Linked DNA regions of Homo sapiens: region 1 is linked to region 2. The links come from fine-mapping of genetic effects on gene expression. A gene starts in region 2. The other region holds a variant in brackets. All regions are shown on one strand. Distances are from middle to middle. Region 1 has its middle 92 kb from the start of BTBD3-AS1. Region 2 holds the start of BTBD3 (BTB domain containing 3).

Region 1 (5,389 bases), 93 kb after region 2:
TTCAAATTTTGAAATATATTACGTGGCTCCATATTTCAACAAATTAGAGGGAAAACCATATAATTATACCACTAGCTAGTGAAGGGTTACTTTATAAAATTCATCATCTAGTCTTAAAAAAAAAAATTTAAGTAAAATTTGAATAGAAGGGAAGTAGCCATGATAAAGATTATTTACTTAACAGAAAACATGAGAATGGATGGTAAAATCCTGAAATCAATTTTGTTACAATATGGAAAAATTAGAGATGACTTTTATTACTATGGAAATTGAACAGTGTTTGACAAGTGCTAATTGATGCAATGAAAATAGTAAATAAAATAATCAGCATAAATACAGCAAAGGAAGAGATTCAGTTATTGTATTCTTACAAAATTAAACAGACTCCACTAAAGCAACTATAAGCAACTATTAAAATAATTAGGAGAACATAGAGATTGGGGGTGAGAGGGACTGGATAAATACATAAAATCGACAGCCTCTTTCTATAACAGAATAACCAAGTTAGAAATGGGAAGAAATTATTTGTACTAGTAACAAAATAATAAAATACTTATATCCTTCTCATTTTTTTTAGTTATATGTCAGAAATGAAGAAAATTATAAAATCTTACTCAAGTATATCAAACAAGGGATTTTGAAAAATACCTTATTTTTGGATGGGAGGACTAATATCATAAAAATACCAATTTATCCCAATTTAATATATAAATATAATGCAATCTTAATCTGAATTGGACTTGGTCAAAATAATTAATAATTCCATTGAAAGACTAAATAAAATTCAAGATTTTGAAAAAGGAATGACTAGACATGTGATTTAACATTTATTAAAAATGTAAAAAGCTCTTATATTAGTTTTCTATTATTCCTGTAGTAAATTACTACAAACTTGGCTTAAAACAACAGAGATTTATTATCTCACAGTTCTGGAGAAGTTTGAAATCAAGGAATCCTCAAGGTTATGCTTGTGCTGGAGGCTCTAGGAGGTCTTTCGTTCCCTGCCTCTTCCAGCCTCTGTTGGCTTCTAGTACTCCCTTACTTGTGGCTACATCACTCTGGTCTCTGCCTCTGTGATTTTCTGTCTTTGTAATTTCCCTCTGTCTTCTCTTATAAGCACATATTTTGTGATGGCATTTAAGGCCTATGCCAATAATCCGGGATAATCTTCTCATCTCAAAATCCTCAAAATCACATTTACAGAAGCTTTTTATAAATTTAAATAAGGTAACATTTACAGGTTCCTGTGATTAAGGTGTGGATATCTTTTGGAGTGGGGGAGGTGGCATTTCTCAGCCTACTACAGCCACTGCAATCAAAACATTTCACTATTAGAGCAGACAAAGAGGTCAATGGATAGAATAGTCCAGACATAGAACCAAGTACAAATGGGAACCAGAAATGTGGCAAAGGTGGGATTTCAGTTCACTGGAAAAAAAGATGCTTTATTTGGTAACTTATCTATAGAAGAGAAAATAAAACTAGATACCTATCTTATTACCATATAAAAAATAAACCCCTGGTTCATCAAATGTGCAAATGCAGAAGAAGAAAAATTAGCAGAAATTCTAGGATAATATCTGCAGAAGTTTGGCCAGTAAGGGACAGACATATATGACTGTACTGACAGTCCCCAACTTAGAATGGTTTGAGTTACGATTTTTCAACTTTACAATGGTCCAAAAGCAATATGCAGTCAGCATGCTACTCCACCTACAATGGGGCTATGTCTGGATAAAGCTGTTATAAATTGAAAATATTATAAGCTAAAAATGAACTTTTAATATTTTCAATTTATGATGGCTTTATCAGGACATAACCCCACAGTAAGCCAAGGTGCATCTGTATAAAAATATAAAAATAAAAGACTAACATGTCATAAACATCTTTCCAAAGATCAAGATTCTAAAGTTAGACAATAATTTTCATATTTTTCTTCATACATCTTCTATTTTTTGTGTTACAATGAACATTACTATATATGCAATAATTAAAATGAATAACATTTAAAGGAGAAAAATATTATATATGATTTGGGCCCACATAGGTTTGCATCTTGGCTACATTCCTTACTTAGTACTTCTGAAACTTACTTTCTCCATCTGTGAAAGGAGGACAGGTTGAGGTATTCCATGTTTAGAAGTGTTACAGTGAGGAATTGTAAGTATAGCAAACTGTAGAGAAACAAGGAGTGAGGTAAGGAGAGAATGAATATCTTTCTTTTTTTTTTTGGAAACGGAGTCTCGTTCTCCCCAGGCTGGAGTGCAGTGGCGCAATCTCGGCTCACTGCAACCTCCGCCTCCCGGGTTCACGCCATTCTCCTGCCTCAGCCTCCCGAGTAGCTGGGACTACAGGCGCCCGCCACCATGCCCGGCTAATTTTTGTATTTTTAGTAGAGACGGGGTTTCACCATGTTAGCCAGGATGGTCTCGAT[T/C]TCCTGACCTCGTGATCCGCCCGCCTCGGCCTCCCAAAGTGCTGGGATTACAGGCGTGAGCCACCGCGCCCGGCAGAAGATGAGTATCTTTTAGTTGATTTGAAAAGTAATTTACATAATCAGTAAGAAACCTGAGAACGTGTATATTGACATTAAGAAATAATGGGGAGACTGGGAATTACGGTTAGAACTAAAGCCCCATCTCTACCCCAAACACTGTTTGCTCCCACCACTAGTGGTTGGGGCTCAAAAGTATGTATGTTTCCAACTGGCATGGTGATGAGAACACACTTTCTTTCAAAATGACTACTTGCAACTTTATTGTCTTAACTTTCATTTCCTGGTAAAGTCTTGAAAGTCTTGAACATTTTTTCCTTTTCATTTTATGTTCCCAGGTTCTGAATTTATTTTGCTGAAAGAGAGAGATACTTTCTGAATTTTACCAGCAAGGCTATTACAGGAATTCCTTAAAGAGTTTAGCTAAGGGGACTTTGAATTACAAAAAGCACAATTTCCCAAACCAGTATCCATCAGTTAGGACACATTCAAGCCCTAGGAGATTATTACAGCCGTTTTTTTTTTTTGTTTGTTTTTGTTTTTTTTTTAACAATTACCATCACTGACCTGAATAATAAATTAGCATTACTCTTAGAGACTAGAATTAAAGAGCTGAAAAATTCTTTCTTTCCTTCCCTTCATTTCAGAGGGAAAGAAACCAAGGCGGAGGAAAGATCAAGTTGACCTACCAATGTCACACTGCTTGCCAGCACCAGCATCTTTCACCTTTCAGTCCACCTTCCTTCCCACACAGATACACTGCCCAGTATAAATCCTGAAAAAAGGGTCTCCTCCAGACTGCCCCAAAGGGTCTATTGTCCCTATGTCTTGCAGACTTGAAAGGCTAGTTTTCTTCTTCGAAGGGATAGAAAGTGCCAGAACTTCATTGTCCACCTCCAACATGCCGCTGTGAATCTTTCCAGCCTGAATTCCACAGGCATCACAAAGTGTCCTTGACACTTCCAAATACGAGTGAAGGATCTCAGGAATCCATTAACTATGCTGATGGATTAAATGGTCATGTATATCTGATAGGCTGACTAACAGAGGCAGGAATGGGAAAAGAAAAACCCTGACAGAGGTTTGCTATTAAAATTTTCTCTAAGAGGCATGGGGCAAACAACTGGCTTTAGGCTGGCATGCCATTCATCTGTTTCTAAGTAGGGTTAACACTATAGGGAGTTATTTTAAGTTTTTTGCTTGCATAGTTGAGAGAAAAATAATTTCCCTTATCTTTCCAAACTTAATGTCAGACAACTTGACAATCCACCAACGCTCCGTAACTAGAATGTCAGTCCAGACTTCTCCCTTTTTGGCCTATCGAAGGAGCAGTGTATACTTCCTAGAAGCTGGTGGGGAAGTCTTATTTTTATATTTCCTGAATCACAGGGAGCTTTTATCAAGATCTGTGCAGCTCTTTTTGGTCTAATAAAATCCTCTTGTGGCATCAAAGCTTGGGTTTCCCTAGAAACAGACCCTGAGTCTAGGATTGAGATGCAAATCAATTATGTGCAATTGTGATTGCAAGAAGTACCTACAGGGAAGTAAGGTGCTGAGACCAGAAAGGGAAGGAGACCAACAGTGTGTTAATGACAGGCTACACCAGGGGGAGACAAGGCTCAATTCCATTGGGAACCTTTAGGGGGCAGTGTAGAACACACTTCAGAATTGTCCCTCGGAAGTGGTGAGAAGCTGGGGTATTTATTTATTAACTCTCATTCCTCCTTAGCCGAAGCCTGCTTCTTGAGGTATGAACTCACCAGCATTTCAGCCCTGTTTGGTGGGAGCAGAGAGAAAGCCCACAGACAGGGAGTTGGCAGCTGCCTGCAGCAGGTCACCGTTACTGGGGCACCAATACCATTTGGTATAATGACCTTCTAGGAAGATAACTCACTTCCTAATTTTCAACAACCTTATTTCATAAATAGGTTAGGGCTTCTAACTTGACTTCACAAAAATAATTTAGGCATTTATACTTAAGCAGAGTGCAAATACTAAATTCATTAATTGGTTAGCACTCTTTTTGTTTCTCATATTAAAGGAAATAATAGTTTTAATTAAGATTCTGTTTTTTGTTTTTGTTTCTATTTTGCTATTACCTGGAAAGATCGAGAGTGGCTGGGTCCTGACCAGGAAGTTAAAGAGCGACACAGTTTGCTCAATGATGACATTTAAGCCCATATCACCTCATCGGTGGGAAATGAGGCTTCCACAAACTTTAGCTTTTCAAACGTATGAGTCATTGGAGCTGACAAAAGAGAATACAAGTGAAAATGTTCAGTGCATTTGCATTGCGACTAAAAGTCACCATAGTTATCCCAATTATGAAATCTGGCCAATGGGGAATGCCATGGTCCTTCCGGTATGTGTTTCTCTGGATTCTCTTCTATTCCCATCCTTCTCAGCACTTATTACCTTTCCAGGGACTAGACTCAAGAATGCAGGTGTGAAAGCATTATAGCCAATCCTATTTTGCTTTGTGTGAGAATATTCTCTAGCATTGACAGTTTGACGGTCCTTGTTGTTTTTAAAATTGTGACAATTTTCTTCAAATCTGGACTTGCTCTGATATTAAGGCTGGCACCCCGATGTGTGTGCTGCATTGACATCTGAGGCTTGTCTCATTGCCAGCAGGTCTCAAATTCTAGTTTTCTGTCTAAGATATAAGGGCAGAATGTTATTTATGGGCAATTACAAAGATCACCTTGCTCCATTTGATTTATTGGAGAGATTTCAATCAAGGCTTAGAGCTCATCCCAAGCAGACAACCATGCTGACAGTATTTAATGATTTATTGAATGCTGGCAACTCCAGCTCTTCCTCTTTTTCAGTTTTAAGTTGGTGGATTTGGGGGAGTGCTTCAGATGCACTCAAAGCTATGGTAATATTTGGTAGATT
Region 2 (5,389 bases):
TTGGTCCCTCTCAGTTGGCTGTCTGCACACCTCAATCCTAGAATTTGACATTTGGGGCCTAATCAGAAGAATTTCAGAACAAGATGTGAGGGGTTGTTAAGTTTTTAATGTCCAAACTAAATTAAATTATTTTGAGTTATTTTCAATTCACTTAATAGTTGAATGCAACATATGGCACCAGATGTTGGTACTGGATCATTGGGAAGACATCTAGTAGTCAGTAGTTATCTATGTGAAGTTTTTTTCAACCTTGAATACTGTATGAAATGCAGATTCTGATCCAGAGTCTGGCTGAGATTCTGGGTGACTAATAGGCTCCCTGTAGATGCTGCTGCTGATCCTTCAACTACATTTTCAGTAGCAAGAACCTGCATTACTTGCCTTATTACCGTGGTAAGAAAAAGTAGCCGTCAGATAATTTTTCTGTCTTGATTTTAAACAGCCATGCTCATCAGTCCTTACATACATTGGAGTAATAATGCCCTTCTTTGTAGCACTCTTGTAGATGATTCAGATTTAGCGCTACTTCATTTAACTAGTATTGTCAGAATTTTCTACAAAACTTATTTTTCTAAATAACTGATATCTGTAATTTTAGAAAACATGTTCTACAATATTGCATACTTCTCTTTCTCAAACTGTTACATCCACTTTACTTTTTTTCTTTAACTTAGTGGTGTAAGAGCCATGTGTTTTGGAGACTTCTTGGTGATGGGTATTGAGCCATATGCAAAATGAGTAAAGATCACAAACCCTTCTAAGTTCTTGTATCTGTGTTTTATGTTTTTTCTATTTTGTCTCCATCCAGCTACCAATTAATAGTATGTCTGCCTAAAAGCAGCTGGTTTCCCTTTCCATTCTAATTGATTACTTCTGACCTGAAAAGCCAGATACTAGATTTGTTAGAAATATTTATGAGATTAATCCCAGTCAGAAAGGCCTACCTGGCATGGGAGCTTTCCTGCAAGGAAGTGGTCAAGGAAGTTCAGTGGCACTTGAGCAAGAGAGAAATCCTTTAGTGTTAACCCTATTCTGAATAATTAGGTCAATAGGAGCTTACTTGTTTCTTCATGACTTTCTCTATGTGCTTTTTAAACTGGTTTCTAGATCCCTCTCTAACATTGTGTGTTAAAGTGTGTATGAAGATGATTTGGAGGTATCTGTATGTGTGTGTTCTGCTGTTGAGAACATGATAATCATAATAAATAAGCAGTGCTTCAGGATCCATCTAAAATGGAGACAGGTAACTGTGCTACAGGCCCTGGTTCTCTTACAGAGGCTTTGCAAATGGTTTTAAGAATAATAATAACAACAATAAAGAGGATATTTCTTGGTTCAATTTAGTGTTCTAGGGATTTAAAGACTGATTTCTGGTAACCGCCTTTAGCAGATTATTAATTATAACAATAACAATCGTAACTCTTATTTGCTGAGCCCTCACTGTGTCAGGTAGTCATTATTCAGACAAATGTTAAAACAAGGAGGGCTGTGGTCATGAAGGGTGCATTTGCCTGAGGGGTAGCAAATGGCTGCTGTGCTTTGAACAAATGAGCGTGATCCAAATAGATAGGGGTGAGATTAAATATTTTAATTAGTCCCTCTTTACAATAAATAAGCATATGCAGAACCTATTGCCGGTGTTTTTGTTTTTTTTACTCACCAACGCTAGAAATGGTTGGAGGATTCACACCTACAAAAATCAAATGGTAGCTTATATTCTTCTAATTCAAAGCAGAGAGAACCTGTTTGCATTTTAACTAGGTGGAATCCGAACATTTATCATTTTGAATAGCCTTGTTATTTGTTCTGTCTTAGAAGTTGTGGATTATATTCTTTAAAATTAAGACAAGACTAAATGTAGCCTTAACAGTTAAGTTGAATTTTGAGATCCTGAACATGGCCCCATCTGAAATATTTTTAGTGAATTACAGCCTTTGAACATTGATCATCAGATTTGTTTTTATTTGAATCTTATTTTTACTTCTAGAGTTTATCTTATGCTTTAGTGTACTTAGGTGTACGGGTATAATCTTAATCTAATTAACAGTATTTTGTGACCTGAGACACCTGTCAAAGACCATTATAGAAGCTAGAAAACATTGGGAGGTAAACTGAACACATGGCCTCAGTTCTCTTCTTTAGCACTAGACTATGACTTGCACTCAAAAGAGGCTAAGAAAAAGAAAAATAACGTCCTTTGCCTTTAAAGTGTAATAAATGTGTTTTGCTATTAATAGCCCTTTTCAGTTTATAGACTGGAGGATTTTGTTTTAAGTATTTGAAACTAAATGCTGCTGGGAAAAAGATTTTAGTAGAAATATAGATATCTGTCCCTACCCTTTGTTAATTGATCCTGCTTAACTGGGGACATAATGTATGTCTACTGAAGAGAAATCTGTGGGCATAAACTCCTCCCTTCCTGTTGTCAAATATATTTCATATGTTATTATCTTGTTTAAATATACAGTAGACAAGAAAATGCAACTGCTGTTCCTTTAATATCAGAACTATGCATGTTACAATAGGTGTCACTGTTTTGCTTGGTCCAATCATGATTGGTGACTTCAGCTATTGGCTCGGAGCACTGGCTGTCTGACTCCATCTGCAGGGCTGTAATACCTACTCTCCTCCGATCCATTCACCACACAACTTCAGCCGGCTGAACAGACTCACGCAGCTCCAGCCCATCTTGCTGACCTAATTCAGAAAAGAAGTGCTACAGCTCTGTGCCTGTCATCTTTGCAGTGTAGCATTTTCAGGTGATCTAGGAAACAGTTATTTTTATGAGCAAATAAGAGAAACAGGAATCATGATGGGGATATATTTAACAGACCCAGTACTGGATAAAACTTAAAGCCAGTTTCTATTCAACATAGTGAAAAGGTCACCTTGCCTGGCTGAGAAAAGCAGCAAAATATCAGCTTTGTTGGTTTCAGTTAACCTCTTAGCCCGGGCTAATCTCTTTTCCTTGATGTTCAAACCAATTTGGGATATCTAACTCTAAAGAGAGACACACTGTACTCATGGTAGATGACAAGGAAAAGAACATGAAATGTCTCACCTTCTTCTTGATGCTTCCAGAGACGGTAAAGAACAGGTCCAAGAAAAGCTCAAAGAAAGCAAATACCAGCAGCAGCAGTAGCAACAGCAGCAAGTTGCCACCAGTTTGTTATGAAATAATTACCTTGAAGACTAAAAAGAAGAAGATGGCTGCTGATATATTCCCCCGTAAAAAGCCAGCCAACTCCAGCAGCACCAGCGTCCAGCAGTACCACCAGCAGAATCTCAGTAACAACAACCTTATCCCGGCCCCAAACTGGCAGGGTCTTTATCCCACCATTAGAGAGAGGTAAGTGCCGCGCTAGTCTATTTACTTTAAAAGTTTTCCTGTGTTGAAGTTTCTGCTTTTGCAAAACCTGTAATGTATTTGAACACAAATCTGTTTCCTCTTTTCCCAGAAGCTTTTTATTGGTAATGGAAAATTGCCTTGTATCTTTTCCAAAACAGTACAGCTGTTTTCCTCTTAGATAAAAATGTTTTTGCAAGCTGTAACATTCAAGTGACAGGGTTGTCTATGGGCCATAGAAAATGGGAACCTTTTATTTGTCCTTAGCTTTATTAAAAGTTTGTATAACTTTTATTTTAAACTTTAGTTACTTCCCTTATGTTTGCAATGATTATGAACAGTTTAGTTAGAACCTTTATTTGTTGTTTTGCCTTGAAGTTACTGGACTGTTGCTTAGCTTGCAAGTCTTTTGTGGGTTTTGTATGTTGGGGAAGGGGATGTTAAAAATGCAGGCTGCTGTGAATTAATGAGTTGCCTCTGTTTATAGAAATGCGATGATGTTCAATAATGATTTGATGGCAGATGTACATTTTGTGGTTGGGCCACCAGGTGGGACTCAACGGTTGCCAGGACACAAAGTAAGCAACAGCTGCATGACCGGTTTAGTCCTGACGTTTACAAAGAGGGACCCTTTCCATAAGCCTGTAACTTGGTGTGGGCAGCTTGCCGATGTCAGGCAGTGCATGTTTCACTCGATTAGGGAGAGAGCGCACCCTCTCCAGAGGGCTTTGGCCACGCTTAATTTTTTCTTTGTTTCCTTCTATACTGCTTTATATCTCACACATCCCCTCTTAACTCTCCAGACATGGGAAGTTGTTGTGACAGGTCAGGAAAGTCGTATGTTTACCCTTCTCCTAGAAATTAGTTATGTAAGCTATTATTGTATGTATTTAGTAATGAGGGGACATGTGCATTAATCTCTTAAAGCTTTGAAATAATTAGCAGCATGGTCTTATGCTTCCATGGCAAGCTACCCTGTGTACCTTGGCTTTTTCAAAGCAGTAGATTTTAGGTACGCTATGTTTACTAAACCTGATTGCCTAGTGTTGTTTTTCTGCATTGATTTGCTGGAAATGCCTTCAATTTAGTGTATGAAATAAGATTTCCCTTTCTACACAGTATGTTTTAGCTGTTGGGAGCTCTGTGTTCCATGCGATGTTTTACGGAGAACTTGCAGAGGACAAAGATGAAATCCGTATACCAGATGTCGAACCTGCTGCTTTTCTCGCTATGCTGAAGTAAGCATCATTCGTGTGTTTGGAAAGAGTTTGTTTATGCTGTATTTGTACCCTGCTGGTTTCACAGTTAAATTTAAGTTCTGCATAACAGAAAAGAAGACTGATGAAGAAAGAGGGTGCTGCTTACCTTGTAAATGTTTTCGGAAAAGAACACTTTAGCTTTCCGTGGAAAGCATATGGAATTATGCAGCATTTATAATCGCACCTTGACGTAGAATTTGGGAGCAAGTGGCATGTATAGTGATGATTTTTAACAACTTAAAATTAAAGACAAATAACTTTCTGGTATTAGCATTATTTAATAGAAGATGTTCTCTCTGAAAGCATTGTGTGTGAAAAAGTCTTTAAACAAATGTTTTTGCTTCACAATTTCAGAAGTTAAGTACCTTATTTAAGTAACACCAGTTGGGAGATTTCTGAGTATTCTAAGAGTTATTGTCTCCTAAGAGCAAATGAAAAACTTACCATCTGTTGAAATAATCTGATCTTTGTGTACACATACATATACATACTCATATAAAATCAGACACTCTCAAGGGTAAAAAGTACTTGCATTTGACATTACAGGGGAAATCTTAGAAAGATATGGATAGTCTCGTACAGTTTCATGTGGATTTATACAGAAGAACTTTCATTGGTAATACAGAAGTATGAAACTTAAAGATACGTTATATATTTATAAAAAAGATAGTTTTCTGTCTGGTGGGTCTTCTGCAGGCACCAGTATGTGTTAAACAGGTTATAGAATCAGCTTCTTTATCATGTACGGTACTAGACAGTGTGGTAGTTCACCAAGTGATCATAA

Evidence for each region. PIP is the estimated chance that this variant, and not a neighbour inherited with it, causes the effect.
Region 1: its variant is the best candidate, but not a certain one, in a credible set for the expression of BTBD3 in whole blood (TOPMed, PIP 0.72).

Annotation. Positions count from the first base shown.
Region 1 is chr20:12,008,324-12,013,712 of GRCh38, forward strand. No RefSeq gene overlaps it. Among named protein-coding and RNA genes, the nearest start is that of BTBD3-AS1, 92 kb to the left of the region's middle. The variant T/C (reference allele first, on the strand shown) is at 2,435.
Region 2 is chr20:11,915,253-11,920,641 of GRCh38, forward strand. BTBD3 (BTB domain containing 3) reads left to right here and starts at 2,641. Exons shown (of 4, transcript NM_014962.4): 1 at 2,641-3,349; 2 at 3,834-3,924; 3 at 4,466-4,584. The coding sequence starts at 3,024. BTBD3-AS1 (BTBD3 antisense RNA 1) reads right to left here and starts at 3,349. Exons shown (of 3, transcript NR_186407.1): 1 at 3,062-3,349.